Regions from separate parts of the Homo sapiens genome. Here region 1 is linked to region 2. The links come from fine-mapping of genetic effects on gene expression. A gene starts in region 2. The other region holds a variant in brackets. All regions are shown on one strand. Distances are between the middles of the regions.

Evidence for each region.
Region 1: its variant is fine-mapped to the expression of EWSAT1 in blood mononuclear cells (TOPMed, PIP 0.98).

The regions. Positions count from the first base shown.
Region 1 is chr15:69,105,793-69,108,704 of GRCh38, reverse strand. No RefSeq gene overlaps it. Among named protein-coding and RNA genes, the nearest start is that of EWSAT1, 26 kb to the right of the region's middle. The variant G/T (reference allele first, on the strand shown) is at 1,378.
Region 2 is chr15:69,079,197-69,082,108 of GRCh38, reverse strand. It overlaps EWSAT1 (Ewing sarcoma associated transcript 1), which reads right to left and starts at 1,259. Exons shown (of 4, transcript NR_026949.1): 1 at 733-1,259.

The DNA of each region.
Region 1 (2,912 bases), 27 kb before region 2:
CATGTCTCTAAGAAAAGTGGGAGAATGAAAGAGTGAGGCAGCCATATGATTTTACCATACCTACCCTGCTCTATTTGTTTTCATTACTATCCTGGTGTCTGTAGAACTTTGAATTTGCGGTCCTTGAATACAGTACACATAGAAGAAGAAACACAGCATTTAAGAAGGGAACGGTTAGTATGGCTGTAGACGTTTAGCATAGAGAAGAAAAAGCTCAGAGGATGCATTATTGGAAGGACTATCGTAGGTCAGAGGAATCAGCCTGTGTTGCTCCAGAGGGTAGACCAGATGATGAGAGATTCAGAAAAGCGGACTTCAACTTAATAGGATGGGTTTTTCAAATAGGAATGAGTTGTCTAGAGGAATGGAGACCTGGAAGAGGTGAGCAGAGATTGTTATGGGATGGGGTCAAAAGAAGTAAGGAGAGGCAATACACATAGCCAGGAAATCTGGTACCCCCATTTATTTACCATGGCCTTGAACAAGTTATTTAACTTGATGTCTGTAAAGTGGACATTAAAATCATACTACCCTTTAGAGATGGGGTGCAGGTAAAATCAAAGATTGCCAGTAAATTATTTTGCATAACACTTAGCATGTGATAAACACTCAATAAATTCTAGCTACTATTATTTGCAATTCAGTGAAAGGCTGGATAATTCATCTCTGAGAGCATTGCCAAGTCTAAGTTCTGTGATATTATGTCTCATTCATCTCCTTTTCCTCTCTCCAAGAAGTTGCTAAAAAGAAAGAAAATGAGTGAATTTCAATCTCATTTTCTTTTATTGCTTCTCCCCCCACTCCCGCCAAGGCGCTTCTAACTCTTGAAATGGCCACAGGCTAACTATGAGAACTGCAAACTTTATATTTAGCTTCTTCTATGACCTCTTCTCTTGTACCAACCATCCTGGAAGTCTGCTAAGTTTTGCAGAAGATATGCTCATTTGAAAATGTTTGCTCATCTCCATTGCTTCCAATTTAAAGTTGATTGCCCTGAAACCTTTTATTAGTAGTGATGGTATCAATGGGCTGCATCAAGTTCAAGATCAATCAGCTCTTTATGAAATGAACCTGGAAGAAGCAGGCAGACAAATACAAAATGCTGAGCCATTAAATCAAGATGAGACCTCTTCCTTCAAACATGGGATAAATGTGTGCTGGCTGTATGGGTTGCTGGGCTTGTGGTTTTATGACTAAATTTGGTACAGAAGGGAAAAATCATGAGAGAAACACGTTTGTTCTTTTTTTAGTAAGACGGCTGTGGCAGACACTGCAAAATATACACCTATTCCTCCCTCTTCCTTACTAGTCAAAAACCCTGTTTTGTTCAGAATACCAATGTGCCCAGTTAATCACACTTCCTCAGTCCCCCTTGGT[G/T]CAGCTGGTTCTGACCAATGAAACAAAAGCAGACTTCTTGTTGCCTGAGAATAAGCCTCTTACTTGCTCAAGTCACTATTTATCAGGTGTTCTGTTACGTCTAACCAAACAAGATCCTATCTGATTCATAGGCCAGCTACGTACTAAGTGTTTCTGTTAGTTTTCACTGCTTAACACCAAAGCTTAGGGACTTAAGGCAATCTTTTTATTATGATGATTCTATGGGTTGACTGAGGCTGGGCTAGAGAATTCTTCTGCTGGTCTCTCTTGGGTTGTCATGTAGTTACAACCAGGATCCAAGCTGGCTTTGCTCACATGCCTGGCACCTTTTTTTTTTTTTTTTTTTTTTTTGACATGGAGTTTCACTCTTGTCACCCAGGCTGGAGGGCAATGGTGCGATCTCGGCTCACCGCAACCTCCACCTCCCAGGTTCAAGCGATTCTCCTGCCTCAGCTGAGTAGCTGGGATTACAGGCATGCGCCATCATGCCCGGCTAATTTTGTATTTTTACTAGAGATGGGGTTTCTCCATGTTGGTCAGGCTGGTCTCGAACTCCTGACCTCAGGTGATCCGCCTGCCTTGGCCCCTCCCAAAGTGCTGGGATTACAGGCATGAGCCACCGTGCCCAGCCACATGCCTGGCACTTTGACAGGTATAGTTGAAAGGCTGGGACCTCTCTTTCCTCCATACGTTTCCTCATGGCATTTCCACACAGCAGCTGGATCCCAAGTGAGATGTCCAACAGCGTGCATTTCAGGGTGCAAGTCTTTGACAAGCTTTGCGGGCATCATACCTGCTAATGTCCTGCTGGCCAAGCCCAGTCATTGCGAGAGGGGACTCCACAATGGTCACCAAACTAATAGTGTGGTACACCAGGGATGTTGCAGAGTGATATATTCTTTATACAGAGGAGAAGAGAGCACTGTGTAAACCTCCAAGCTCCGCCTGAGTAGTGAAGTCTTTTCCACCATGTTTTCCATGATTTCATCCTCCTTCCCCATCTTACTCATTTTTTTTCCCTCTCCTTATAAACTACCTGCCCTTCCCTCCTTAAAAAAAAGGGAAAAAATATTGGTCTATTCCCAGTTCCAAAATAACATCCCTATGAATTAGGATTTAAAACTTCTAAACTATTATTGTAAACTGATAGCCTACAGGCATGTTATGATTGGGGCAAAGGTTTTTAAAATAGGGAAATTTTATCTTAGAATCCACATTCCAAGCTTCTTTTGAAAATAAGGAAGGGCAAGCACTCCTGGGCCCACATTCTTTCATGGCAACAACTGGCAAGAGCTGACTTGAGGCCTCCGCTTGTTAGAGGGCCCAGGACTGTCCAGTTTACCACAGTCCTCACCATTCCATATAGTCTCATTCAGATTGGAGCCATGGGTTTTAATGGTGGTCTGGCTTGTCTGCCTGATGCATTTCTGTGATCTGCCTAGCCTTTGAGTTACAACCCCTTCTTTACACTTACTCTGAATTTTCTCCCTTTCACCATTCCCCGCACCCACAATTCACCACAATTCATCTCCTCT
Region 2 (2,912 bases):
GGAGCCAGCACATTCCTAACTTTGAATTCTGATCATCTCTGAGATTGTGTAGCCCTCAGTTCTCAACCCTGGTTGTACATTAAGGGGGGGAAAAAGCCAGTACTCAGGACTTATTACAGACTGATTAAAGAAAAGAATCTGAGTCTCCCCCCTCTGGAGAATCTGAGAGAGAAAGCTCTCTGTTCAATTTTCGTAGTTTGGATGACCTGGAAAGCCTCTATGGAGGCAGAGAGTGGGTTCTATGACCTCTGTTAGGTCCCCTTTCCCTCCCTGTGTTCCTTAGCCAGGACTTGGCAGGAAACCCTGGGATATCAACAGTTCCACAGAGCATTTTGCGCCCAGTTTTCTTGTTTTTATCTTGAGATCTCATCATCAGGGAGACTTGGAGAATAGGCCGGTAATTTTGAAACCACAACTTGGCTTCTGACTGCCTCAGGCCTTCTTGAAAGTTTCCACCAGCCAAGAGTTTCATCCAGATATCTGCAAGGGACCTTCAAGGGAACGGCTGGGAAGCTCATTGTCCCATTAGGACTCCCTATGACCTTCCCAGAGGGCCCAGCCACACAGATGCAGCCTGGAATGTGGCAGGAAGCTGCAGAACAGGCAGGAAGCCCAGCTCCACGTTACATCGCAAGCAGCCTCCAGCAGCCAGCCCTGAAATATCCCGTTTCTTCCTGATCCACCCCCACTCCCAAACACACATCTAACCAGCCAGTAAGATTCAGCAGTTACCTCTGAAACGCGTCTTGGATCTTCTGTCCTAACACCAACTCCCCAGCGCAGGAGCAATCTCCTAACTGGACTTCCAACCTCCAGTCTCTCCACCTCCAGCCCATTCTCCATGCCATGGCCAACATGATCTTACTAATCTAAGATCTTCTGGTTTGAAGATGGCATAAAGTTAGTAACCCTCCCTTCATTTTCTGGAAGTAATCCAAAAGCAAAAAGGACTTGAGCGATAAAAACACAAATTCCATTTTTAGTAAAAGTAGGAGACACCTAAACCACAAAATAGACGGAAGAGTTGCCAAAAGCAATAGAGCTTCAGCAGAGATGTTGCAGGAAGAAATAGAGCAAGGATGCTGTGCTGCAAAGTCTCTGGGACAGCCTGAAAAAGAATCCTCCAGAAGAGGAGGGGCACACCTGGATGCGGAATGCACAGAGCCCTTGTGTGCAGCAGCAGAAAACGGGTGCAGGTGCTGTGGCCTGAGCTCTGCTGGCTCAGGACTCAGACAAGCCATAGTTGTAGGAAATGGTCTGTTTCTGTGGCAACAGGGGAGGAGAGACTTTGCCTCGGGGAATCTTTGCCATTGGTTGGAAAGAATTCAAGGCTCAGTGAATTTACATCAACCCTGGGTCATAAGGAAAATTTAGCCAACCTGGAAGACAATCTTGGCCTCTCTCACACCTGAGGTCCACGGGGAAGAAAAAACATTACCTTCTTCAATAATGAGTAATATATACAAAGTTTTGACAAGAAACAAAGGAGGAAAAAAGAAAAAGCAAACAGCAAACAGCAGGTAAAGAAGATTCATCAAAAAACATTGTCATGGAGCAGATGACAATTTTAACGAGAAAATTAAGAAAACATAGCAAAGTAATTTCCCCCACAAAGAAAACACGCACATGAGAGATGAGGGAAGAGGTAATGAAACAGTGGGAGGAAATGAATCCTGAGCTGCCAGAGCTTGGGGAAGAAGTGAAAGAAAAAAAGAAAACTATCCAACCTTCACTCTTAAAAAATGAAGCCTCAAATCTGAAGCAGTAAAAGGGGAACACATACTGTGGAAACTCAATGAGAGATAGTGAGAGGAATAAGAAAAGGAGGCAAACTAAATGAAAATAAAGAATTAGAAAACAATAGGTACATTTGAAAGGCAAAGAAGAATTAATTTTATATGCATTAAATATGTCTGAAAGGGGCCGGGCATGGTGGCTCACGCCTGTATTCCCAGCACTTTGGGAGGCCGAGGCAGGCGGATCGCTAGAAGTCAGGAGTTCAAGACCAGCCTGGCCAACATGGTGAAACCCCGTCTCTATTAAAAATACAAAAATTAGCTGGCGCGCTGACACACACCTGTAGTCCCAGCTACGGGGAGGCTGAGGCAGGAAAATGACTTGAATCTGGGAGGTGGAGGTTGCAGTGAGCCGAAATCGCGCCACTGTACTCCAGCTTAGGAAACAGAGTGAGACTCCATCTCAAAGAAAAGGAAAACAAAATTCTGAAAGGGCACACAAGAAATTGATAGTATCAGTTGCTTTTAGGGAAGAAAATTGGGTTGGCCGTGAGGTAGGGTGGAAGGGGTGGAAGGAGGGCCAGGGTGGAAGGGAGATTTTTCACTTTTGTGTTTTTTAAAGTTTTGACTTGTATGAACATATTAGCTCATCAAAAACATTCAAATTAAGCAATACACACCCTGCCTCCAACACACACACACTTTCACAATCTGATTTTGTTACTGTCTGTTTAAAACCCTTCCATTGTTCTCATTTCTCTTAAGATAAAAAGCACATATCTAAAAATGGCTTATTAGTAGGGTGATCATATAATTTATTGTCCAACAGGGCACTTAAGATCAAAAAGATGCACTACAGATGTAAACTGGGACTAAGGCCATCTACTTATGAGGCAGGCCATGATCTGGCCCTTGTTTCCATCTCCAGCCTCATCTGTCACCTTCCAGCCCACAGGCTCTAACTGCAGTCTTACTGAGCTATAAGCAGCCACCCTCTTCCCTCCAGACCTCTCAGCACAAGCTGTCCCCTCTTCACAGTACTTTCCTTCTTCCAAGTCTCCCTACACCCTACACCCTACTCTTTGGCTTATTCTGTATATCCTTCGTGTCTGATTTACCTTACTTATTTAATCAGTTCTAAAATGCATGTTCTGGCCAGGCGCAGTAGCTCATGCC